Homo sapiens: one gene and its partners. The protein of the gene in region 4 purifies or fractionates together with the protein of the main gene of each other region. This does not show direct contact. Each region holds a gene or a part of one and is shown on either strand. Other genes may lie near its edges. The genes, in order: GAK, HERC1, ZFTRAF1 and RABGEF1.

Region 1 (7,028 bases), on a different chromosome or scaffold from region 4:
CACATGCACGCGGCTCATGCTCACTCACAGGCACTCCTACGCATGCATACATGTGCACACAGCTCAGGCACAGGCACTCGCGCGCATGTGCACACATGCATGCGGCTCACATGCACTCACAGGCACTCGCACACATGCATACACATGCACGCAGCTCACGCACACAGGCACTTGTGTGCATGCGTACACATGCATGTGGCTCACACACACTTGCATGCGTGTGTACACATGCACGCAGCTCACGCACACTCACAGGCACTCCTACTCATGCGTACACATGCACGCGGCTCATACAGGCACTCGCGCGCATGCGTACACATGCATGCAGTTCACGTGCACTCACAGGCACTCGCACACGTGTACACATGCACACAGCTCACGCGCACTCACAAGCACTCCTACACATGCATACACATGCACACACGCATACATGCTCCAACATGCACATGTGCTCATACACGTGCCTGCACACAATACGAGCACTCAGCTCACACAAGGATTCACAAGCACAAGGACTCACAAGCACCAGCACACATGCTCATACCAGCAATCACACACGCCTATGCACATACTCACACCAGCATTTACACACACATGCACACATGTTCACATATGTATGTTAACACACCCATTCCCTCACATGCACACATGCTCAAAGACACATGCACCCACGCTCACATGTGCAGACGCTGCGGTACATGCAGGCACAAGTGCACACACGTCTACCTGGTGCTGGGGACACAAAACAGTGATCACAGCACAGAACAAAAAACATAAGAAAAAGCCCGAAGGTGTCGCCAGCTGTGGAAGGAACGTGGGCCCACCAGGGGCCGCAGTTCCTGCATCACGGGCACCAGTCCAGCCCAGCTCCTAGGCTGTTTCCTGACATAGCCGACGCCCTTGAGCTGGTGCGACCGCAGGGCCAGATGAGCAGCCAGCGTGCTCCTGGGCGTTCAGCTCCTCAGAAGAGCCAGCGCATGGACCCCGCAACGCAGAGGGGCCGCACTCTGGAACATTCCCAGTGTTCCGTGAGCAGAGGCTGCCGGGCCTGTGGGCCGATGTCGGGGCCACCCCCGCACAGACGCGCCCTTGGACAGCCCACCCAGAGGGAGACTTTCTCCCACCACAGGCTGGGACTCACCTGGTCTAAGTCTGAGTAACTAGGGCTTTAACTCAAGGACTGGCTCAGTGAGGCGCCACCACCGAGGTTTCACCCAATTTACAGAGTCCCGGGAACAAGCCAGGAACGCCCCAGAGTGAGGGGCGACATTGCAGCAAGGGAGGGGAGGGCCCAGGCATCTCCTCAGCAGGGCCTTGCCCCCCAGGCGATGAAAGGAAAGGGATCTGCCTGGCTCTGTGGGATGCTGGGCTCATTCCGACTCCCTGGGAGAAGCGGGTGATGCTGTCCCACTGCCTCAGGGGCCCCTGTGGGGCCTGATGACCAGCTGTTCCACCGCAGCCAGGAAGCAAGGGCCGGGGCTGCAGCCTGGAACGAGCGTGCGGCAGGTCCAGGGCTCTGGAGCCTCACACTCACTTAGCGACGGACTGGATGACCTTGGAGGAGGTGTCCTTGAGGTTGGTGAAGAGCCGCTCTGTCCCACCCCGCAGAATGTCCAGGAAGCCGCCATACGGCTGGTCGTACTCCGCCAGCGCCAGGCCTGCAGGGAGACACAGTCTCAGCAGGCCCCAGGTGCTCGGTCCCACCTCCCCAGGTGCGGGTTGCTGGCTGGGCCCAGGCCCCAGGCGCTCGGTCCCACCTCCCCAGGCGCTCGGTCCCACCTCCCCAGGTGCAGGTTGCTGGCTGGGCCCAGGCAGCAGGAGCAGGGAGTGGGTGGTATGGCCAGGCCCCTGACCCACACGTACCCAGCGGGAAGCCAGGCCTCAGCACTGGCAGGTCTACCCTGTCCTCAGCCTTTCCAGAGACCCAGGAAATGGTCAATCTGGGTGCGGAAGGGCTATGTGGCCGCCTCAGCACAGCTGGGGCTGGGACTCTGTCTGTGGGGATAGTCCGGCCTCACGGCCACAGCTTCAGGCCACCATGACCCTGGACGTGAAGGCAGAGTGGTGGCCCCTGGCCTGGTGGGTCCTGCGAGTGAGGTCTTCACAGGCGGCTTTGGTGGCACAAGTGGTGTTAAAAAAAAAACACCTGGCCAAAGTCCCTCATGCAGACAGGAGACCGAGGCCCAGGCAGCACCGAGCAGATGGGGGCACTGCAGAACCCAGCAGCTCGAGGACTCACCCTTCCTCCAGCCAGCAGAGACCCAGCCAGCCACTACACCTGCATGTGTGGGACCCACACTGCACGGACCGGGGTGCCCCAGACATGGAGCTGAGCTCCTCCCTGGGAAGCGGAGGTGAAGGACCCAGGTGAAACCTCCCACACCGCAGTGGGGATGCGGGGCGAGGTCGGGAGGGGTCAGCGCCATGCAGAGCTGCAGACCCAGCCGCTGCCTGTCAGGGCCATGTCCTCGACGGCTCACCCGGAACCTTCTGGAACACTCCCGGCACGGAGTTCCAAGAGCATGCAGCGTCTGTCTCCAGGGCCCTCTCCACTCCTCACCAGCTGAGGGCCCTCCAGGGACACCCAGGCCCATCACAGGTGCCCACTCCTCATGCGGCAGAAGGGGCCACCTCACACTAGCGGCAGAACTGTCTTCCCCCACCGCCCTCCACTGTCCAATGCCTGCTCCTGCCCCCTGGCCTCAGGGTCGCTACTGTAGTAAATGGTTCACCTTGCCCACAGCAGGCCTGGCCCTTCATTCCCAGCTCCTGGGAAGGAACCTGGGATGCCCCCTCCAGCCCCAAAAGGGGTGTCTGTTTCCCTGGGGCCTTGGGCTGTGCCAGACACGACAATGTGATCTATGCTGGGGTCTTGGCCACGGCGCAGGCTGCCTCCCACATAACCCCTGAGCGAGGCCGCCTGGTCACTCGGGCCCGGTCTCCTGGGCCCTGCCCTGGAGCCTCTTCCCTTGGCTGGCTTTAGTCCGAATCCTGACCCCCTCCTGAACTGCACCAAGACACCAGCTTTGCTGAGCTCTGTGAGCCCCAGGGAACTGCCGAACCTGAGGGTGTGCTCAGGGACCCTGACCTCACAGTCATCTCTGGTGGGAGAGGAGGCCCCGGGAGAGAAGGACCCCAGACTCCATCCCAATGTGCTGCGGGTGCCCGGGGTGCAGCAGGAGCGAGGGACAGGTGGCGGGCACAGGACAGGGCACTCACCTCCACTGTAGCCACTGCCAGCGGGGCCCACGGGAGGGGGTGGCCCTCGGGACAGTGTGGCGCTCCCGTAGCCTCCATTCTGCTCCAGGAGCTGTGACAATGAAAATGCAGAGGTCAGTTCTCTAAACTGACAACTCACGCCTGCCCACGTCGGGCAGAGGTACGGTATGGGTGCCCTCAGAGCCCATCCTTCTGCCCCCTGATCTATGACACAGTGCAAGGGAGGAACTTCCCACAGGCTGAAGCATCAGCTGGAACTCAACAAACGCACGCAGCCCTCATCCCCTCACCCCGCGGCCTGCCTCGCTTGGGGCTGTTGCAGGTGCTCAGCACTCCAGCCCAGCTTTTCAGACTCTTGGGCTACAGCTTCTGTTCCTTTTCCTTTTCTCTCTCTTCCCAGTCTGTCCAACCAACATTTTTTTTTTTTTTTTTGGTAGAGACAGAGTCTTGCTCTGTGACCCAGGCTGCAGTGCTGGAGGGCTGTGGCACGATCTCAGCTCACCGCAACCTCCGCCTCATGAGTTCAAGCAATTCTCCTGCCTCAGCCTCCCAGAGTAGCTGGGACTACAGGCATGCGCCACCACGCCTGGCTAATTTGTTTTGTATTTTAGTAGAGATGGGGTTTCACCACGTTGCCCAGGCTGGTCTTGAACTCCTGAGCTGAGGCAATTCGCCTGCCTCGGCTTCCCAAAGTGCTAGGATTACAGGCGTGAGCCACTGCACCCAGGCTTTTTTTCTTTTTTTTTTTTTTGAAACGGAGTCTCACTCTGTCTCCCAGGCTGGAGTGCAGTGGCATGATCTGGGCTCACTGCAGCCTCCACCTCGCATGCCCAACCATATTAAGCAGACACATGGCCTGTCTGTCCCAGGATGTTCCATCACTTCAGCTCCTGGGTTCTGGGGGCCACCCTGTGAGGCTCACTACCTCCTGGGGGCAGTATTTTATTTCATTGTGAACTCAGCTCCATCATGGACTGTGTTTTCTGGGGGAGTCGGTTGGCTTAAGCAGGGGTCTAACGTCTGTCCCCACGGGGTCCCGGCCTAGAAGCACTCAGATGAGAAGCACTGAGGACCCCGCCCCATCACTAGGGGCCTGATTCTGCCCATCTGCCCAGCGGCACCTCCTCCCGCCCCATCAAGAATCCCTCCAGCGCACTCGACAAAGCAAGAGGCCCACACCCCCCTGCGAGCCCACTGTCCTCTGTGACCTCCGGGGGAGTGGGCAGGCATTTTCTGTAAAGAGCCACCAAGCGAGGGGGACACGAGGCCCAGGCTGCTAAAGAGCAGGACGGCCCAGGAGTGATCCCTTCCTGCCGCTCTCTGACAGCCCCAGGGAAGCTTGCTGAGAGGCCACCAGTGACATCAACTCTCCCGCCTCAGAGCGCCCCACACCTCAAAATGCTTCCAGCACCCAGCACCAGGGCTCCCTCTGCTGGTGCACCCACCATGATGGCCGCCAGAGAGGGGCACCACAGCCTCTCCCCGTCTGCACTGGGCTTCCCAGCACTTCCCTGCTCCCAGGTCTCTGTACCCACGCGGCCCCCAAGGAACTGCAAACCCTCCACACAGCCCAAACCTTCCTTGTCCCACAGGGTCCTGTCCTCAGACAGGGACTCCGGGCAGCAGCTCTGACCTTCTCCCCACGCTCCACACCCACCGCCTGGGTCAGCTCCACTGCAGTGGCCCCTGGAAGTTCCGGCTTCCAGCTACCAGGGAGTGGAAACGACCCAAGGGCTGAAAAGGGGACAAAATGCAGGAGCCAAGAGTCCTGGGTCCTTGGACACAGACCCCTGCGAGATCTGCAGAGGGGCCCTGCGTGTCCTGACTGGGCCCTGAGCTGGGATGCCCAGGGGCCTCCCTGCTCCCCGTGGGTGAGGGCCGGGCCGCGTGTCTGCTCTGCCTCGAGGATCTGGTGATGGAGATGCTGCACCCTGTCCACGGCTGGGTCAGAAAAGACTCTGAGGAAAGCATCTTCCAGCCAACACGTGCTGCTCCCTCCCAGGCCTCACACTTCCACAAAGCACACGGCCCTGTGGGCCTCAGTCTCCCAGCCCCCAGGCCCTGATGCTGCCAGCAGCCACCGGTGCCTGGGAGTGGACCCTGGCCAGGCCCAGCCCTGACACAACTGCAACCAGGACGCCCAGAGCTGAGCTGAGGGTCAGAAACACAGACGCAGAGCAACTCAGGACACCCCAGGACGCCCAGAGCTGAGGGCTGGCTGACCTGGCTTGGACACCAGACCCCAGAAACAAAGACACAGGAGCAATTCATGCTGTCCTGTCAGGGGAAGAATCTAGAAAGGCGCCTGCAAACCTCAAGGAGGCCAGAGGAGCGCGTGCAGAGTGCGAAGACCTTGGCAATGGTCCCAGCATGCCCCCGGGGTCTCGGCCCTGGGCTGCGGTGGTGACCCTGCTCCTGCAGGAGCCCAGGGCCCTCAAGAGCTTGTGGCTCCCCACTGAAGTGGGCAGAGACCCCCAGGGTGCAGGGTCCGGACGAAGCAGCACAGCCACATGCCACCCTCCTCTCTGTGGGGGGATTTGGGGCTCACATGTGCCTCCCTCCCCTCTGTGATAGGAAACTTGGGGTTCAGGTGTGCCTCCCGCCCCTCTGTGATAGGAGACTTGGGGTTCACATGTGCCTCCCTCCCCTCTGCGGGGGATCTGGGGCTCACGTGTGCCTCCCTCCCCTCTGTGATAGGAGACTTAGGGTTCACGTGTGCCTCCCTCCCTTCTGCAGGGGATCTGGGGCTCACATGTGCCTCCCTCCCCTCTGCGGGGGATCTGGGGCTCATGTGTGCCTCCTTCACCACTGCGGGGGATTTGGGGCTCACGTGTGCCTCCCTCACCTCTGTGATGGGAGACTTGGGGTTCACGTTGCGGGCGGCCGCGATCTCCTGCAGCTGGTGCACCACCTCGGCGATGGACAGCCGCTCCTCCGGGTTCACCTGCAGCATGGCGCCTGCAGCAGAAGCACAGCGCGCTCGGCCCCACGGTTCCCCAGGCGGGTCAGCACCCCCTGCACTGGCAGAGGTCACAGACCACCAGAGGCCACTCCCTCTACACACATCAGTGACGTCAGAAGCAAGAAGGGAGCGGCAAAGGGAAGAACAAAAACCGAACAAAATGATCAAAAATCACCACTCAGAGCACCGCAAATTCACCAGCGGGGTGGGCGGCAGGGGAGCTCTCTGGAAACCCCCCCCCCAGGGATGTTGTCAAAACTATGGTGACGGGCGGGAGTGGGGCCAGGTGAGCAGTGCCCCAAGGGGAGCGGGGTCTCCAGAGCCACGCGGGGTCTGTGCTCCAGGGTCCTGCCCCACGCACGCATTCCACCGGGACTTACGGATGAGGCTGTGGAAGACCGTGTACTGCGTGTCGTGCGGGGGGATCGAGTACTTCCCATTGACTATTCGAAGTTTCGCTCCATCCTCAAAAGGGTGCTGCCGGAAGCACAGCAGGTACAAGATGCAGCCCAGGGCCTGCGGGGAGAGCAGGGGTGATGCCTAGGCCCACGGGGAGCGCAGGGGTGACGCCTGGGCCTGCGGGGAGAGCAGGGGTGATGCCCAGGCCCACGGGGAATGCAGGGGTGACATCGGAGCCGTGGGGAGCGCAGGGGTGACACTGGGGACTGCAGGGAACACAGGGGTGATATCGGGAACATGGGAAATGCAGGGGTGACACCGGGGCCTGCGGGAACAACAGGGGTGACACCCGGGCCGCGGGGAGCGCAGGGGTGACGTTGGGGCCGTGGGGAGCGCAGGGGTGACGCCTGGGCCTGTGGGGAGTGCAGGGGTGACACCCAGGCCTGCG
Region 2 (7,028 bases), on a different chromosome or scaffold from region 4:
CGCAATAGCAAAAAACAAAAATGAATAACCTGATTTTAAGACGGGCAAATGACTTGAATAGATATTTCTCCAAATAGGACATAAAAATGCCTCAACATCACTAATCATCAGGGAAACACAAATCAAAAAATCAAAACCACAATGAGGTATCACCTGACACCTGTGAGGATGGCAATTATCAAAGAGACAAGAGATAAGTGTTGATGAGGGAGTGGGGAAAAGGGAATATTTGAACACTGTTGGTGGAAATGTAAATTGGAACCGCCATTATGGAAAACAGTATGTAGGTTTCTCAAAAAATTAAAAAGGGCTGGGCGCAGTTGCTCACGCCTATAATCCCAGCACTTTGGGAGGCCGAGGTGGGCAGATCACAAGGTCAGGAGATGGAGACCATCCTGGCTAACACAGTGAAACCCCATCTCTACTAAAAATACAAAAAAATTAGCCGGGTGTGGTGGCAGGCACCTGTAGTCCCAGCTACTTAGGAGGCCAAGGCAGGAGAATCACTTGAACCCGGGAGGCAGAGGTTGCAGTGAGCTGAGATCATGCCACTGTACTCCAGCCTGGGCAACAGAGTGAGACTCCATCTCAAAAAAAAAAAAAAAATTAAAAAGAAAACCACCATATGATCCAGCAATCTCTCTTCTCGGTTTTAACCCAAAAGAAATAAAAGCAGCACCTCTGAGAGAGAGCTGCACTCCCATGTTCACTGCAGCATTATTCACACTAACTCAGATATGGAACCAACCTACACGTCTGTCAGTGGATGGCTCTATAAAGAAATTGTGATACAAACACACTCTGGAATAGTATTCAGCTTTCAAAAAGGAGATCCTGCCATTTACAACAAAACAAATGAAACTGGAGGACACTGTCTTAAGTGACACAAGTCAGACGTAGGAAAAAAAAAAAACACTAAATGATCTCTTCTATATGTGGAATCTTAAAAAAAAAAAAGTCAAATACATAGAAACAGAGACTAGAACAGTGGCTAGGAGAGTAGGGGAGATGCAGGTCAAGGGAACAAAGTTGCAGTTATGTAGGATGAATAAATCTAGAGATCTAAAATATAGCATGAGGGCTGGGCACGGTGGCTAATGCCTGTAATCAATCCCAGCACTGTGGGAGGCCGAGGCAGGGAGATCACTTGAGGCCGGGAGTTCGAGAGCAGTCTGGCCAACTTGGCAAAACCCCATCTCCTCAAAAATACAAAAAATTAGCCAGGTGTGGCAGCACACACCCAGCTACTCCAATGGCTAAGGCATGAGAATCACCTGAACCCAAGGTGGAGGTTACAGTGAACGCAGATCATGCCATTGCACCCCAGCCTAGGTGACAGAGCAAGACTCTGTCTCAAAAAATAAATAAAGTTAGCAAGAGCAATATAATTAATATTAGCATATTATATACCAGAAATTTTCTAAAAGTAGATTTTAAATGTTCCTAGCACATACAAAAAAAGTAACTATGTGAGATGATGGGTATCTTAAATTGCTTACATACAGCAATCATTTCACTATGTATATCAAAACATCATGTGTACACATTAAATTTATACAATAAATAAGTAAGTAAGCCTGAAATAAACAAATAAAATGAGAGAGAAGAGACTGGTGAACAATATGTTACCATCCTGTGACTTTTGTGGGCTTATTTTGTAATCAGTAAAATGAAGTATTATTTGAAGTTTTTATAGCAGCAAAGGTGATTGTACTTTAAGACTATCCCAGGCCTTTACTGGTTCCATTCACAATCAGCACTCAGCATCTATTTTCCTGGGAACATCAGTTCATTAGAAAACCACGAAAAAAAAGAAAAATAATAATTTTTTTTTTTTTGAGATGGAGTCTCGTTCTTGTCCCCCAGGCTGAGTATAGCGGTGGGTCTCAGCTCACTGCAACCTCCACCTCCTGGGTTCAAGTGATTCTCCTGCCTCAGCCTCCCGAGTAGCTGGGATTACAGGCACCCGCCACCATGCTCAGTTAATTTTTGTTTTTTTAGTAGAGACGGGGTTTCACCATGTTGGCCAGGCTGGTCTCAAACTCCTGACCTCAGGTGATCCACCCACCTCAGCCTCCCAAAGTGCTGGAACTAACAGGTGTGAGCCACCACGCCCGGCCAAATAATAATTTCTTAAAAAGAAAACGAATGGAATATAAACTCATCAAGTGCCAGAATCTTTGATTTTCAATTAATGTGTTCCAAGCACCTGGAGCAGCACTCTTTCTGGGAATGAACCTAAATTTCCAGTGTTGCTGGGCAGCACTTGTTACCCTAAAAGATGGGGATTTCTTCATGTTGTCTTGGTTTTTTGGCACCGCTAAAATCTAATAGGATTGCCCTAACCCAGAACTTTAAACTCGCGGTTTAATTTTCATTACGACTGCCCTTCTTCCTTATGGAACTATGACAGGTTCCAAGATACTGCCATTACTGGTCCAAATAACTACCATACCATGGGTATCAATACGTACTGTATATACCGTTCAAAATAACTATGTACAATGTGAACCAGTAACTACCATATCACATATTCTAGCCTAAGAAATATTCTTAGAATTTCAGTTATCCTCTGTTAAACCCCAAAAGTATTTTAGAGCACAGGTACTATGAATCAATGTAGCACTTCCATTAAATGCAAAATGTTAAAATGAACAATCCTGACTAGGCCAGAACTAATGGACTTTACCTGCACATAATAAGCTACATGTATGAATGCAGTATTAGTGGACAATGTATTTCATTTTCAAGCTATAAGAACCAACCATCTGCAAGCATTAAGCACTCATCCACAAGGGGTCACCCGAATGACTACTATTCTTTTAATCACTTATCTCTGGTAAAAAAAAAAAAAAAAAAAAAAAAAAAAAAATATATATATATATATATATATATATATAAAGTATGACAACGTATTCTGTTGGTGCTTTCACACATTACTGGTGAGAATGCAAATTGGTATACTTGTGGAGGAAAATCTGGAATTTGGGAATATCTAACAAAACTACATGTGCACTTAACTTTTGAACCAGCAATCACACTTACAGAAATCTACCTTGAAGATACGGTTCTAACGATACCAAAATACTACGCGCAAGGCTATTTACATAAGAAACAACCTAAATGCCCATACATAGATGAATGGTTGAAGAGGTTAAGAAACATCTACACAGTCAAGTCACAGCTGTAAAAAAGAATAGGCTGGGTGCAGTGGCTCACGCCTATAATCCCAACACTTTGGAAGGCCAGTGTGAGAGGATCACTTGAGCCCAGGAATTCGAGACCAGCCTGGGCAACATGACAAAACCCCATCTCAAAAAATCAACAAATTAGCCAGGTATAGCGGTGCACACTTGTAGTCCCAGCTACTTGGGTGGCTGATGAAGGAGGATCGCTTAAGCCCAGGGGATTAAGGCCACAGTTTGAGCCATGATTGTACCACTGCACTCCAGCCTGAGCAACAGAGTGAGACTGTGTCTTAAAAAAAAAAAAGACCGAAGAAAATGAAAGGAATATCTCTTCAAAAGAATGACCTGATTTGGAGTCATTTCCAGGATATACTATTGAGTGAAAAAAAGTGCAAAAGAGTATAGTATACTCTCCACATAAAAAAGAAGGGAACAGGAAAACAATCTGGCAGTTGCTCAAAAAGTTAAACATACAGTAATCATATGACCCAGCAATTCCACTCCTAGGTATATATACCCATGAGAATTAAAAATATATGTCCACACAAAAAATTGTACATGAATGTACAAAACAGCATTATTCATAACAGCTAAGAAGTAGAAAACCAAATGTACCTCAACTGACGCATGAACAAAATGTAGTATATTCACATAACGGAATAACATTCAGTTATCAAAAGGAATGAAGTACTGATACATGCTACAACATGGATGAACCTTGACAAAATTATGCTAAGTGAAAGAAGCCAGGCACAAAACGCCACATATTATATGATCCATTAACACAAAACATCCAGAATAGGCAAACACACACAGACAGAAAGTAGACTGGGAAGCGGACCTGGGAAGTGACTGCTAATGGATACACAGTTTCTTTTGGGGGTGATGAAAGTGTTCCGGAATTAGATAGTTGTGATGGTTGCACCATCTTGTGAATATACTAGAAACCACTGAATTGTACACTTTAAAAGGGTGAGTTGTATGGTATGTGAATTGTATGGCAATAAGTAACTGTATCAGAAGAAAAGGAATATAAGAGAACACCCACATATATTTTCATTTGTGTAACAGAAATAAAGGAAGGGACAAACCAGAAACTAAAGAGACTATGTACCCACAGGGCATGGGCAAGAGGTAGAAACAAAGATGGAGGGATGGAAATGAGATAGTAAAAACAAGGAGAGAGTGACACTTTTCAGTACAACTTTTTTCCTTTTTTTTTTTTAAGACAAAGTTTTGCTCTTGTTGCCCAGGCTGCAGTGCAATGGCGTGATCTTGGCATACCGCAACCTCCGCCTCCCAGGTTCAAGTGATTCTCCTGCCTCAGACTCTTGGGTAGCTGGGATTACAGGCAAGCGCCACCACACCAAGCTAATTTTGTATTTTTAGTAGAGATGGGGTTTCTCCATGTTGGCCAGGCTGGTCTCAAACTCCCAACCTCAGGTGATCCGCCCTCCTCGGCCTCCCAAAGTGCTGGGATTACAGGCATGAGCCACCGCACCCAGCCCAGTACACCTTTTTATACAGTAGTGTTTAGTAGAAGCAGTGTTTAGTAACTATAATGTTTCATATGCCAAAAAATAATAATAATTAAAATCAACTAGGGTTGGAGGGAACCCAAAATGGAACAGTAACAATAACAAATGAACTTAATGCATTAGGGATGAATAAGATTAAACTAAAGGGAGTGGTAAAGAAAATAACTAACCTAAGTAACTTTGGAAAACTATTTTGACTAGATACTATAAGGCTAAAGCAAAAATAACTACATACAAATACACTAATTAGTAAATACATTTTTCACTAGGGTACAGGTTAGCAATCTGTAACCACTTCATGTGTATTCTAGAAGTCAACAAATAAGTGAGTATACTTACTCTATATCATGAAAGCCAGGTTTCTGACAGAGACAGAAGGAACGGGAGAAGGTTAGAATGAACTTTGTGGTACTGGATTAGAATAGGTGTCAATATGAACCCATGGTTTTAAATATATATAGAATACAGGCAGGGTACTGTGGCTCACGCATGGAATCCCAACACTCTGAGAGGCCAAGGTGGGAGAATAACTTGAGCTCAGGAGCTCAAGGCCAACCTGGGCAAAACAGCAGGACCTCGTCTCTACTAAAAATTAAAAAAAAATCAGCGGGGCATGGTGGGTGCACATCTGTAGTCCCAGCTACTTGGGAGGCTGAGGTGGAAGGATGGCTTAAGCCCAGGAGTTCAAGGCTGCAGTAAGCTATGATCACGCCACGGCACTGCAGCCTGGGTGACAGAGTGAGGCCCTGTCTCAAAAAAGAAAGAAACGTCAGTATGTGTGTGTGTGTGTGCACATATATGTTTATATAAATATATATATATATATATATACACACACACACATATATAAATAATATGTGTGCACATATATGTATGTGTGTGTGTGTGTGTGTATATATATATATATATATATATATATATATATAATATACTGATATATTTCCTAGTTCTGCCAACTGAAGTCCTGGGAGCAATAAAACTCCAATAAACATACCGAGTATACAGATTTTGATTTTAAATACTATTCTCCAATAAAAGAAACCAGAGCTCCTTGGAGAAGTAGTCGACTCCAGGACTGGTGCAAGGAAAAATAAGATGAGCATGGAACAGCCTGTGGCCCCAGAATATAAGAAAGTGCTTGAAAAAGGGTAGAGGCCAACCTGAAAGAGCTTCCAATGGCCAAAGCTGGAACAATTTGAACAACAAAATAAATAATGATAGTATTGGATTATAATCCATAGAAAATAGAGATCCCATAAGAACACACTAATATAAACAAATAATTGAATAAATAAGTGAGGGAAAGGGGACATCTCTCCCTTAAAGAATTCCAATTAATAAATGCAGAAGGAATGAGGGAAATACAAAATCATGATTAGCCAAACACCACAGTAATAACTGTTGCAGACAAGATCTACCAATGGATGTTAAAAATCAATGGGAGAAAGTTTGAGGAGAAACTGTACATCCACAGTCTCAAAGTGTCTCCCCCAAGATATGTATGAACAATAAAGGGAAGAATAGTAACTTTACTGTGAAGAATACCGCTAAGGGTTCAAAGTTAAAATACCACTAGCAAAAAGACATGTCAACACCATGTACCCCCAATATGATGCATTGAGAAGGACACAACATCGCTTCTGTAGTTTTCTTGCAAAACATGCTTAACCTCAATCAAATCATGAGAAAAAACATCAGACAAACCCAAAATGAAAGAAGTTCTAAAAAATAACAGTACTCATCAAAAATGTCAAGGTCGTGAAAAACAAAAACTGAGGAACTGTCAGAGATTGGAGGAAATGAAGAAGACACAACAACTAAATGCAACGTGGGAACCTAGATTAGACCCTAGAACAAAAAAAAAGGCATTAATGGGGAAAAACCAGTGAAATTAAGTAAAATCTATAGTCAATAGAGTTACACCAATGCTAACTTCTGGTTTTGATCACTGTATTATGGTTATGTAAGTTGTTAACATTAGGGGGAGCTTGGTGAAGAGTATGTAAGAACTCTGTACTCTCTCTGTAACTTTTCTGTAAGTCTAACATTATTTCTAAATAAATCATTAAAAATAAATAAAATCCATCAACCAATCATCTGATACAACTGTCATATCTTCTTGCTCAAGGATCTCATCTGAAATTTAACAGTCCCATTAATTTAGAGAGCCCGGTAGGCAACATCAGAACAAACTAAAATCATGAAAATCGGATCTGGCATCTAGTAAGTAAACAACTACTTTATGCTCTTTTTCACTTTTTGTAGTTAAAGAAAATGCTAGCAGATGTGACCTTCCTGGCTT
Region 3 (7,164 bases), on a different chromosome or scaffold from region 4:
AGAGGGTGGAACCTGCTGCATTCCTGACACTGGCTGGCTCGAGACAGCCAATCAACGTGGTCACCAAGGAAAGCTAGTAGAATATGGTAGACTGAACCCAAGCTGGGGTGATGGCCAGCATGGGCCCAACCAGGGACACGCAGAAGGCAGCATGTGGGGGCCCACACCATCTGTGCCCAGATTCTCCAGGGAGCAGAGCAGGCCAGAGCCCAGGTCTCCAGGTCTGTGTTGACCTTCCAGGGGCACCACTCACAGCCGAGAGCCACCCGCCGGAGGTGTTCTTCGCAGCATTCAGGGAGGCCTGTGCCCACAGCACTCCTCGCTCAGCTGCTCTGTTCCCAGGGAAGTCACTGAACAGAGCCCCCAGGCCAGGGAGGGCCACCAGCCAGGGCAGCCCCAGCGCCTTCGGTCTCCATTACACCTGTTCAGCTCCCTGCCTCTGGCCGCCCAGAGCAGAACTCCACTCTGCACAGTGCAGGCCGGTTTGAACCAGCTAGGCTCAGAGGCCTGGTCACCAGGAGCTCCGGTCAGAAGCAGAGCCATCACTCTGTGCCGGGCCAGTCTAGATGGGGGATGCAGTGCACCAGGGACCAGTACCATGTGGCCCATCACCACCAGGTCCAGCTACAGCTCCAGCCCACCCACCAATGGGGAGACAAGGAGACTTCCCTGTTCCCCCGTGGCCTCACACCATTGGCTTGGCTTGTTGGAGTCTCCCTCGAGATCCAAGAAAAAGTTCTGGCCAAGCGCAGTGGCTCATGCCTGTAATCTCAGCACTTCAGAAGGCCGAGGCAGGCGGATCACCCAACGTCAGGAGTTCGAGACCAGCCTGGCCAACATGGCGAAACCCCGTCTCTACTAAAAAATACAAAAACAGCCGGGCATGGTGGCAGGCGCCTGTAATCCCAGCTACTCGGGAGGCTGAGGTAGGGAGAATTGCTTGAACTCGGGAGGCGGAGGTTGCAGTGAGCAGAGATCGTGGCACTTCACTCCAGCCTGGGTGACAGAGTGAGACTCCGTCTCAAAAAAAAGGAGAGTTCTTCCGCCTGGGAGGATCGAAGGTTGTGAGCCAGGAAAAAGGAGCTGGAGAGTGGGCACATCTTGGAAGCTGAGGCACTGCCAAAGCCAAGGAGTAACTGCTAACTCTGGGAGCCAGTGGCTCTGAAAAGTGCTCCCCTAGCTGGCCCTGGTGCCTGACACCCAGGAGGGTGGGTTAGAGCCAGTGCCCTCTCCCCACCCAGGCACACTGGGGTCCTCCCGACAAGGTCATGCCACAGCAAGAAGGACTTGGAGATCCAGAGTTTGGAGAAATGGCAACCTAGACTAGCCCTACACCACCTGCTACAAAAGTAGCTCCTCATCCAGGCCCCCAATTCAAACACAAGCAGGGAAACAAGGCCCCATTAGCTACTTCCAGCTCCTGTAAGTGTAAAGAAAGCTGACAGAGAACCTGCTTCATTTCTCACAGGGACTGGGGAGTTGAAAGAGAGGGAAAGACACAGGGAAGGTGGGGACACTGTACTCTGCCTCTGGGTGTCAACCAGTTTGTCCCTGCTGCTACCTGGGAAAGGGCATGTCAAACCCACCTGGGCCAGGTACCCTAACAGCCCTAGGCTGCTTAAGGGCTGAGTCCCACTGCCATGCGGATGTGAAGATGGGGGAGGAGGGGTGGGCCGGCTCCTGGAGCACTGGCTGCCTAGGAAGCCTGGCCTGGCCTGGGTGAGGTGGGCAGGAGCCTAGCGTGGGGCATGGCAAGTCCAGTTGGATGTGGGGTTTGGCTGGGACTGGAGAAGGTACCCAAACTGTGGGGCTTGTTGCAAATGGTTCATCCCGACAAACAGCAATCCCCTCTCCTTACTGTTCTTCAGGATGAACTGGAAATGGACCAAGAGAAAGGATTCTTCCACCCAGGAGGGTAGAAAAGGAGGCGTCCATAGGATGTTCAGGAGTGGAGGGACAAACTCGGGGGTGTGGCTGCCGGAAGAATGGGGAAGGAGCTCTCGAGCACAGGACTCTGAGCCCAGGGAGCTTGGGACCGGGTGGGTTGCGGGGAGCAGTTGCGGGCTAAGGATCAGTTTGAGGCTGTGGGTTGGGAGAGTGTTCAGGGGACCGTGGGGAAGTCTAGAAAAAAGAAGGGAGAGGTAAGCGGAAGACAAGCGATTCAGATCGGGAAGTACCGTGGATCAGAAAACAGAAAAGGGGGGTCCCGAGCGGAAAATAAAGCCCTGAGAGAAAGACAACGAGGAGCTTCGGAGCAGCCGCTGGAGCCCCGCTGGGCGAGGAAGTGGCTGTAAGGGCCAGAGAGGGTTCCCGGCCGCCGGGCCCCGCAGGCCTGGCCTCCGAGGAGACGCGGATCCTGGGGCCCCGCGGCGGGGGCTGCAGCCCCGGGCTGGGCCGGGTCGGGGTCGGCCGGCGGCCCTACCTGGTACACGGAGGCCTTGGGCAGGTCCAGGCACACGGTGCAGCACAGCACCGAGTAGAGCCGCTCCTCCAGTTTCCCGCTGCCGGCCGCCGCCGCCGCCGCCGCCGCCTCGGCCGCCTCGGCTGCCCGCAGCCGCTTCTTGGGCGGCGCGTCGGGGTCGCCGGCCGCCTCCTGCAGCTGTAGCTGCCGGGCGCCCGCCAAGCCCGCCTCGTCCGGGAGCCCAGGCCCCGCCGCCTCGCCCAGAGCCGCCGCCGCCGCCTGCCCGGCGGCCGCCCCGGGCCCGGCTCCGACCCCGACCCCGACCCCGGCCGGCACGGAGCCCGCGGGCCCCGCGGCCGGGCCGCCCCCGCCGGCCTCCTCGGCGCCGGACATAGCGGCCGGCCGGCCCGGCGGGCGGATGCCGGCGCGCTCCCCCGACTAGAAGTTAGGGGCGCCGCGCGCTCCCGCCGCTCTCCTGCCGCCGCCGCCGCGAACCCGCAGCCCCGCTCCCTGCGCCGCCGCCTCAGTGGGCCCGGCCCGCGCGTAGCCCCACAGCCGCCGCGGCCACCGACCCCGGCACGGCCGCCATCTTTGTTTTCGCTGTGCGCTTCCCCCCGCCCCGCCGCCACCACCCCCTCGTCTTCCCCGTCACGTGAGCCCCACGCGGGGCCAATGGGAGCGCCGCTTGGGGCAAGAAAGCGCAGGGACTAGAGCCAATGGGAGAGCGAGGGCCCCCGAAGGCCCGCCCCTGCAGAAGGTGGGCGGGGAGGGGGCGCGGCCTGCGAGAGTCGCGGAGGGACTCGCACCTGGGGGCAGGGAGGCCCACGCGAGCTGTGGCGCCGGCGCGGCACCCACGCTCCACGAGCCAGTGGCGGCCGCCGACCCCTACGGCGGGGTGTGCCTGTGTCTCTGTCCCCCAAGACTCAGGCTTGTGTTAGGGGCTCTCGCCCCCTTCCCCGCAGGGGAAGGACACAAGTGAAAAATCCCGCCGGCCACCCCTCTCTGTCGGGTGCGGGACCCCTTAGGTCTCCACAGGAGCAAGCGGAGAGACTTCCAGGAGAGGGGACTCCAGACCCCTAACCCACCGGAATCTAATCCTCTGCTCGTCCGAACCCCCTCTAACCCTGGGGTTGGAGACTGAAGGGGTCCACTGAGGAAAACGAAGGTATTAGGGAATAGGGCTGGCTTCCACAGGCCGGAGGTACACAGGAGGGCGAATCAGCTCTGGGAAGGATGTGCGTTTCTCGAAACGCCTGTGGTACAGCCCTCCCCTGCCTCCACCCTACTCTTCAGTTCTTGAAGGTCACTGCCCCAGAGGGCCACCTGCCAGGCCAGGCCAGGATATCTGGAACTCCACCATGTCCCTGGAGAGTAAGGGCCCAGGGCTATGTCTTCTCAGCCCAGGGGTCTTCCTGACAATAGTCAAAAGGAGGCCGGGCTGCATGAGACCCCATCCTAGTTCCAGCACATACCCTGTCAGGGTAACTGACTACTGTCCTGAGGGGCCTTAGGAAGCTCACTGAAAGATCCCTCAATCCCTCTCAAAAATGGGCAGTTTTCATATTCCTGCAAAATTCCTAAGATTTATTGGAGACTAGGCCTCTTCTCTGGATCCACAACCGTGTCCAGCCCAGAATCAGGACCCCCAAACGTGTCTGGGACCCTGTCCCTTTCATTCTGGTCTAGACAAGTCCCCACACGTGGCCAAAGGACAGCACCCAGACTCTGCCCCTGACCAGTCAATGTGCAGCAAACCCACTTCAGTAGGCAGAAGAGTCTACCCCTAGGGAGAAGGCGCCAGGAGCAGGCAGGTGGGAGGGAAAGTGTTCGGCAGGGCAGAAACCCTGCCTGGCTGTATCCAACTGTCACTCCCACTGGAGGCGCTGTGTATGCAGGGCCCGGCAGTAAGCCCAGCTGCCTACAGCCAAGGCCCAGCGACAGACATCCTCCTTCGGTAGCAGCAGCAGCCTGTCCTCCTCCAGCCGGCTCAGGAGGCCTGCCACACCCAGCATCGCCCCCCCCCACATCCCATAAGTGTTGGCCGTGAAGACAGCTACAATGAGGATGGTCACTGCGACCACCAACAGCATTGCCTGACCAGCCACAGAGCGGCCCTCAGGGCCGAGGTGGCCGCCAGCCACTGCCAGCACCATGCCTCCTCCCAGGAGCAGGTTGGCAGAGGAGCGGTCCCCATTCACCCAGTGGAAATCGAAGGCCAGAAGGGGAAGGCCGATGACGGTGGCCACCCAGGCTCCAGCAAGGCAGTCTTCGTGTGTGCTCAGCCCTGGGGCCAGCGTGGTGGTGGCAGCCAAGACCTGGAGCAGGAAGCCAGCAGCAGCCCCTCGACTTGCCTGTCAACACAGGGAAGGGAGAACACGTGGGAAAAAGAGGCCGGGGTCACCCTTTTAAACAGGAAAGGGTTTGGGGCTTCCATGGAGACCTGGTCTTAGACGCACTTCCCACCAACCTCTCTCTAATTCAGGAAACTAGGTCCTTGGGGTTTGGGAGGTATGGGGATGCGCCCCTGCTCAGCCCCAGTGTACTCACCTCGGCTGTGCTCACGGCTGCGTGCAGAGACACCACTCCCAGCACCAGATGGGACAGGGCTGTGCTCCACTCGGCCCCCGGCTTGGGGGCCATGGCACCTCAGGCGGCAGTATGTACGAGGACACAGATAGGAGATACTCAACTTTGGAGAGGAAGGAAGCGCAGAAGCCAGCGACCTGGAGCCCTACGCGCGGCACTCTAGTAAGCCCAGGTTCCAGGTCCCCATTACTGGATGTTAGGAGAAGTTCAGTCCTAGACTTTCCGGATCCCTGAGGCCACTGCACACACCTGTGGAGAAGAAGAACCTAATTCAGCCGGGAAACGGGGGAAAACGACTCAGGGTCTAAGCTGGGGGGAACGTCAGCCCTGGGGCCCTGGAGCCCAAGTGGGAGTGCGGGCCTGGGGAAGAGAGAGCGGCGAGGCGCTGCAGGCCCACGCGGCGGCCTCGGCCTGCTCCCTGCGTTCCGGGAGGCGTTGTCCTGGGAACCCGGGTCCAGGAGGAGCGACGGCGCAGGACTCCGGGAGGCCAGCCGTGCGCAGTTACCGGGCTGCGCGGTCCCAACGCAGCGGCGAGCGGGAGGCCCGAGCCTGCGCAACGCACCGCCCACCGCCGTCGGCCCTGCCTCCTCTGCCGTGCCCCCAGTTGCGGGAGCGAGCGCGGTCGGGAACCTCCACCAGCGAGAGGAGCGGAGGCTAGAGCGGCCGGGCGGGGCTAGAGCGGCTGGGGGGGGAGGGTCGAGGCCTGGGGGAGAGGGTCGAGACCTGGGGGGGGCCGGTTGGAGGCCGTAGGAGCGGGTGGGGTCGGGAGGAGCTCGGGGACCAGAAAACGCTCTGTTTGGGTGGGTGCGTGCGTGGGCATAGTGGTTTGGAAGGAGCGTGATGAGGGGAGAAGGGCCGGGGCGGGGCTGCGAGGGGCGGGGTCTGGGCGGGGCTGCGAGGGGCGGGGGGTCTGGGCGGGGCTGAGGGAGATAAGGTTTAGGCGGGGCTGAGAGCGGCGGGTCTGAGAGGGAGGGGGCCTGGGTGGGGCGGGGCCTGGGCGAGGATGCGATGGGGGGGTCTGGGCGTGGCTGCGAGGGGCGGGGCCTGGGCGGGGCTGCGAGGAGAGGGGTCTGGGCGAGACTGAGAGGGACCGAGAGGGGAGGAGCCTGGGCGAGGCTGCAAGGAACGGGGTTTGGGCGGGGCTGCGAGGAGGGGGGGTCTGGGCGGGGCTGAGATGGGCGGGGCTGAGATGGGCGGGGCTGTAGGGAGAGGAAGGAGAACCCCGGCGTGTTGAAGGCTCCGCGAAACCGGAGCGGTGGGGGACTACGCGGAGGGTGGGAGGGATTCCGAGAGGAGGGTCGCGGGAGCCGTGGGCGCTCTCAGCCCGGTGTCCGCGGTGTAGGGGTTGGGGCGCGCCGGGCGGCGCCGTGAGAAACGGCGGGTCTCCAGGTGCGGCCGCGGGCACCTGTTTCTAGTACCCCCGTCCCCGCGCTCGCCTTCCAGCCGTGGGAGCCGGGCCGTGGGGGCGGCCGTCGCGAGCATGCGCACCGGCACTGCGGCGGGCGGGCGCCGAGTCTGGGCGCGGGGACGCGGGGCGGCGCGAAGCGGGGCCCTCTGCCGCCCCGCGCTCCCATGTACGCCTTTTACTCGTTGCTCATCTACATCTTCTACAGCCTCTTCCGCAGGGATGGTGGCGCCGCGGCGGCCGCGGAGCCCGGGGACCCCGCCCAGGTGAGCGGGGCTGGCCGTGCAGCCCGTCGTCTCCCGCCGCCTGCCCCACCCCCACGCCGAGGTTCCCGGGGCGGGGGCGGGCACGGGGCGCGGGGCGACGGGGCCGTGCCGAGGACCCTCGGCTCGGCCCCGATGCTGGAAGCGTAGACTTCGGCCCCAATCCTCCGGCCCGGTTCGCGGAGGGAAGGGGCCAGCAGGCTGCCTGCCCCCCTCCTCAGGGGCGCCCCTGCCCCCTCCCTAGAGAGCCCGCAAGCCCCGGGGTCGCCGGCGCCCAGACCTGCCCGCGCCAGAGCTGTGGACCGAGCTGACCGGCCTGGCCGGTAGGTGCGGGCTGGGAGTCCCGCGGTGCGAGGGCGGTGCCGGGACCTCCCAGGGAGGGGCGGAGGCCTGGCTCAAGCACGTGACCCGAAATGTCTCCCGCCCTCCTCCCTGACCGGCAGCCAGCTCCGAGCCTGAGGATGGGTCGGAAGGCGCAGCCGAGGGCCGCGCGGCCGCGGTGTCCCTGG
Region 4 (5,260 bases):
CGATTACAGGCGTGAGCCACAACACCCAGCCTTCTCTTGGGTTTTCTACATAAAATAACCATCTACAAATAATAGCTATCATTTGTTCTAAGTTCAGACAACAACCCCATGAAGCAGTAATATTATTAACCCCATTTCACAGCTGAGGGATCTGAAACAAGAGATTTGTTCAGGGCCAATGAGCTAATAAGTAGCAGAATAAAATTCAAAACCAAATCCAAGCCTTCCAGCTTCAGAGTTCATGTCCTCACCAACAGACAATAATAGCTCTATATTGATTACATTAACTCCTTTTTTCTCTACTTTTATGTCTGTTTGAAGACTGAGTACCTTGGTAGAACTGCAAGAACAAGGTTGATTGATTGTGGTGACAGCAAATATTCTTGTCTTCTTAATTTTAACTGACAAATGTCTCTAATGTTTCATTTTTAGGTATAGCTTAACCAGAAAACCTCTGTAGCATGAGAATATTAATAATAATGTATATTTTCCTAAGAAAGAACCAAATCAATTTTTGGAAGAGGGACGGATTGTGAAACTTTATTGATAAAGAATTCCGTTCCAAAGGTGTATTCCAGTCACATTTACCCTACATAAAATACCAACATCTTCTTATTGCAAAAACAGAAACTCCGGCCGTTGTATTGATGCTGACTTAAGAGAAATAGAAGCCTCTATATAAGGCAAGAGTCCATACCAGAAGAATTCGACCAATATGAGATACCTCCAAAAAAATCAACTCAATAACCTACTTTATATGTAAGAGACCCAAAAAAGTCAGCTTTTGTGGGAAGTTGATATGCAGTTTATTGAACAAACAGAGTGTACAGTAACTAAACGAACTGTGTATTTCCAAAGGAATTAAGACCGCATATCTGGATTCACACCTAAAAGCACATAGAAAATTAAACCAAAGAAGGGCAAGTTTTGTACTAAAATCACTTGGGCCCAGGTTATTCTATAAGAAGATTCTCACTGGCATTTGATAGTAACTTATCACCTTCTGTGCGAGCTTGGGAACCAGCTGACTCAGTGAACTGCTTCCTGTCTTCAGTGCGTGATGACACAGATGTGTCAAGCTTAATAGATCTTATATGTAAATTTAAGAATAAGAAGTTTTATACCCACCCTGGTTTTATTCCAAAGTTACTGCTCTGCAATTTTGGGCTCCATCCTTAGGAAGATACTGGAAAAGCAAGAGAACCTTTCTCAGCTGCCTGTGTGAAGTGACGTTGTTCTAGAACGGTGCCCTGGGGCCTCATGCACGATTTCACAAGTATAGCTGCATAATCTGTGGATGTCACTGAATGGAAGAAGAATCATCAATGGTATATTTAGGTTATAGAAGGTTCCACTGAGATAAGAAAAGGTTCTACAATGCAGGTAGCTGTCAAGCCTCCTAAATATTTAACTCGTTTTAGTTAACATCACACTGTGCATTGAGTGCAAGATTCTTTGGTTACACCATATTAACCACCAGGAGGATAACTCCTGGTTTGTAAAAGACATCAGTGGTTCTTAACGGAGGGGTGATATGGCCCCAGGAGACATCTGACTATGTCTGGAGAGAATTTTTCACAGCTCTAGCGGGGGTGCTACTGGCACCTAATGGATATGGATGGCAGGAATGCTGCTGAACATTCTACCATGCACAGGGTGGCCCCACAACAAACACCTCTCAGGCCACTAATATGAATAGTCCCGAGGTTGAAATGTCCTGAAAAAGGTTCAGAAAACATGTCTAGACGTTTGCAAAGTCAAATGTATATTATGGAGGCTGCAAGGCGCCCCTTGCATCTCACAGCTGAGGGACCCCGTCACCTCTCACCATCAGAGGCCCATTCATTCCCGCCTTCCATTCCAGGCCCAGTGCCTGCTCCTTCTCACTGAAGAACTCAATAGAGATTTGCTGAATGAATGAGGGAAAAATAAGCTAGAAGCATAGTTTAAAGTCTTCCATCGACTACATTAAACAGCAATTTTATGTGGCCTAAACTTTATTCTGAACCTTAGTGGTGTCATAGTCTCTGACTATATAGAACCTCAAAGTTAAGGCTAACACGTTCTTAAAGATGGAGTGCACATCTTAAGGGGAGTTTGTCTAAACACTTCTCGAGTCATTTTAGTGGGACAAACCAAATAAAATGGTGCTAAAGGCAAACATTCAATATACTTCATTTTAAACTAAAAAATTAACATATAAAATGCCATGCACAGCAGACACCATTCTTTTTTTTACATATTTACAATTTTACATATTTACTTATCAATATAATTTCTATCTTTACAATTATAAAATTATTCCAAACTGTGGAAGAGTGGTACCATTTAATTTTCTTGAACATACACTTTGTAGCATTCATTTGTTTAATCCTTTAAAAGGCAATTATTTACCAAAACCACAGTGAATGCCAGAGGAAGCACATAGGAAAATCATGGAGGGAAAAAAGATTGAGACAAAATTTGCACACAAGCCTTAAATGAATCTGTATCAGTAACTCAAATAAGTAGTATTTTATTATTAACTAAGGTTCCCCTGCTAGGAAAAACGAAACAATCCCCATATACTGTACCTTTAAAAAATGCTGACATTTATAAGCAATTTAGTTACATTCTAGATCCCAATCAGTTGAGTGTAGTAAGGGCTACCTACAATTTAGGCTCAAATAAATACTCTCCACTAAATTGTGATCATCCTGCATAAACTTGAGGTTGCAGTGGTGGAGGAAGTTTATCATTTTCAACGTTTTCAGAGTCAATAGCTGCTAACGGTTGATTCGGAGGCTTAATTTCCAGTGGGTATTTCTCAACGATGTCTTGAACTTCTCTTGCAATTCCATCTGTCCAATCTATGAGGTCTTTTTCCAGTTTCTTGGCTTCATTCATGATCCTTTCTTGTCGTTCATTCAACTGAGACAAGAGATCCAAGTTCTTATACATTTGCTTGACGCCTAAGCAAGCATCAGGAGACCAACTCTCAGCTTCTTGCTTCCTGGGAGAGGTCTGGCCAGACATGTAGCGATCAAAATCCTCCTGACTTAGATTCAAAGACTGGGCGTCTAGCTTCTCAATGAAAGCCACAGCACAGCACTACAAGAAGAGGACGTTAATACAGTCATATTAGGAAAGCTATGCATACTCGAGTCGATTTGTAAAAATCTTTTGATCACAGACCATTTAAAACAGAAGCTAAAGTAAACAAAACAAACTCATGAACTTCTGTGTATTTCAGCCTCAAAAATTACCTACTCCTATCCCCGGTCGTGCTTCCTATACACTCCCAGGAGCTCCAGGGCCGATGTCTGGGTGCAGCCTCCCCAGGTGCACCATGAAGCCATTCTGTCTGAGTCTTCCCAGACCTGCTATCCCCACCCAGGATATAGTCCCCAAGTAGGTGTGGCACACAGACCTCTGATCCTCAAATGAATATTTTAACATCAAGTGGTTAAAAGAACAGCTCCAGACCGGGCCCGGTGCCTCAAGCCTGTAATCCCAGCACTTTGGGAGGCTGGGACGTGTGGATCATGAGGTCAGGAGTTTGAGACCAGCCTGGCCAACATGGTGAAACCCCATCTCTACTAAAAATACAAAAATTAGCTGGGCGCAGTTGTGGGCGCCTGTAATCCCCGCTACCTGGGAGACTGAGGCAGGAGAATTGCTTGAACCTGGGAGGCGGAGGTTGCAGTGAGCCAAGATCACGCCACTGCACTCCAGCCTGGGTGACAGAGCAAGACTGTCTCAGGAAAAAAAAAAAAAAGGAACAACTCTGAAGTGACTGAACCTGAGTTCACTGTCACCTCTTTCACTTAACAACAACAGTGAGTGACCGTGGGAAAGTTACTTAAGCTCTCTGAGGTTTCTGTACCTGTAAATGGGGGGAAATACCACCTAGATTTATTGTGAGAATTAAACAACATAACATGTCACGTGCTTCCGAGAGGCCTGCAGCGAGCAATGAATACACGGTAGCAATTATTAGTACAGACATGGCACTGCAAATGCCCAATTCAACAGACATCTGAGCCAGGCGTGTTGGCTCGTGCTTGTAATCCTAGCACTTTGGGAGGCCGAGGTGGGAGGATTGCTTGAGACCAGGAGTTCAGACCAGCCTGGGAAACAGTCGGGGTAGAAACCATCTCTAGAAAAAAGGAATAAAGAAAAAGAAAAATCTGATTCATCTGAGTAGAACGGAACACCATCTGGCTCATGGTGTGTGTGGAGTTGCTGTGGCCCCTCTGTGACCTGGAAAGAGGAGGTGATTCTAACTCCTCACTTAGGTGAATGGAGACATGGCATTGCCACTAAAAGGAATAGAGAATACTGGAAAAGAAACAAACATCTGAAGGGGAAGTAGCTCTGAACAAATTATATTTGAGGTGCAATACAAGTGTAAGGTCAAGACAGGTGACCCAGAGCTGCAGGCCATCACTGCACAGTGAGTGACAGCTCTGTGACAGAGAAGATGGTGCAGGAAGAGAGATGCAGAGACAATGGAGTCCCATGGAATGACACAATTCAAGGTGGAAGTAGAAGACACAGACTTTACAAAGAGACAAGGAAGTAGTGGAATTGTGGAAGCCAAGGAACAACAGAAGTTGCAGAACAAAGGACTCTTGGAGAGTGCTATGAGAAGCGAAGGAAGATGAAGACTGTGAGTGCCCGTGGGGTTCGTCAGCTGGAAACTTTTTACTTTTGCCAGAGCAGTTTCATTGGAGCAATGGGTGTAGGAGACAGACTCTGAGTCAGGCAAGAAGAGGACAAAGAGAGAAGGCACAAATGTACTTAAGGCTGCAGGCCAAGGGCACTAGAAGCTGCTAAGTGTGTGCAAGCCAGCCACCTCTACTGTCAGTGACCGTGGCTACGCTCAAACACGTCCTGGTCCTCCTCCACTTCTCTCAATACCTGCCATGTCTCCACCTTCACACTTCTCAGGGACTTCCAGGTTGTCTGACTCGCTTTGGATAAAGAACTGAATCCAAAACGCTCTTCCCTCGTAGGCAAGTGTATGTTTCATTTATATTAAGAAATATGAGGCCAGGTGCGGTGGCTCATGCCTGTAATCCCAACACTGTGGGAAACTGAGGTGGGTGGATTGCTTGAGGTCAGGAGTTCGAGACCAGCCTGGCCAACAAGGTGAAACCCCGTCTTTACTAAAAATACAAACATTAGCCGGGCATGGTGACACACATCTGTAATCCCAGCTACTTGGGAGGCTAAGGCATGAGAATCACTTGAACCCAGGAGACGGAGGTTGCAGTGA

What was found.
Region 1: the proteins of RABGEF1 (region 4) and GAK purify together in Homo sapiens (affinity purification with mass spectrometry; 2 studies listed by BioGRID and IntAct, with this or other methods). This does not show direct contact.
Region 2: the proteins of RABGEF1 (region 4) and HERC1 purify together in Homo sapiens (affinity purification with mass spectrometry; 2 studies listed by BioGRID and IntAct, with this or other methods). This does not show direct contact.
Region 3: the proteins of RABGEF1 (region 4) and ZFTRAF1 purify together in Homo sapiens (co-immunoprecipitation; 3 studies listed by BioGRID and IntAct, with this or other methods). This does not show direct contact.

What each region holds. Positions count from the first base shown.
Region 1 is NC_000004.12:887,313-894,340, forward strand, and holds part of GAK (cyclin-G-associated kinase), read right to left. Parts: intron 6,698-7,028; coding exon 6,562-6,697; intron 6,178-6,561; coding exon 6,065-6,177; intron 3,311-6,064; coding exon 3,220-3,310; intron 1,659-3,219; coding exon 1,535-1,658; intron 1-1,534. UniProt on the Homo sapiens protein: Associates with cyclin G and CDK5. Seems to act as an auxilin homolog that is involved in the uncoating of clathrin-coated vesicles by Hsc70 in non-neuronal cells. Expression oscillates slightly during the cell cycle, peaking at G1.
Region 2 is NC_000015.10:63,823,944-63,830,971, forward strand, and holds part of HERC1 (probable E3 ubiquitin-protein ligase HERC1), read right to left. Parts: intron 1-7,028. UniProt on the Homo sapiens protein: Involved in membrane trafficking via some guanine nucleotide exchange factor (GEF) activity and its ability to bind clathrin. Acts as a GEF for Arf and Rab, by exchanging bound GDP for free GTP.
Region 3 is NC_000008.11:144,459,861-144,467,024, forward strand, and holds the start of ZFTRAF1 (zinc finger TRAF-type-containing protein 1), read right to left. Parts: upstream 3,012-7,164; 5' UTR 2,795-3,011; coding exon 2,423-2,794; intron 1-2,422. Other genes in the region: TMEM276-ZFTRAF1 (uncharacterized protein LOC157542 isoform 1 precursor), read right to left, coding at 4,600-4,752, 4,949-5,041; TMEM276 (transmembrane protein 276 precursor), read right to left, coding at 4,267-4,752, 4,949-5,041; kinesin-like protein KIFC2, read left to right, coding at 6,560-6,658, 6,900-6,978, 7,099-7,164.
Region 4 is NC_000007.14:66,806,716-66,811,975, reverse strand, and holds the end of RABGEF1 (rab5 GDP/GTP exchange factor), read right to left. Parts: intron 4,139-5,260; coding exon of another isoform or gene 4,100-4,138; exon of another isoform or gene 3,091-4,099; coding exon 2,692-3,090; 3' UTR 512-2,691; downstream 1-511. UniProt on the Homo sapiens protein: Rab effector protein acting as linker between gamma-adaptin, RAB4A or RAB5A. Involved in endocytic membrane fusion and membrane trafficking of recycling endosomes. Stimulates nucleotide exchange on RAB5A. Can act as a ubiquitin ligase.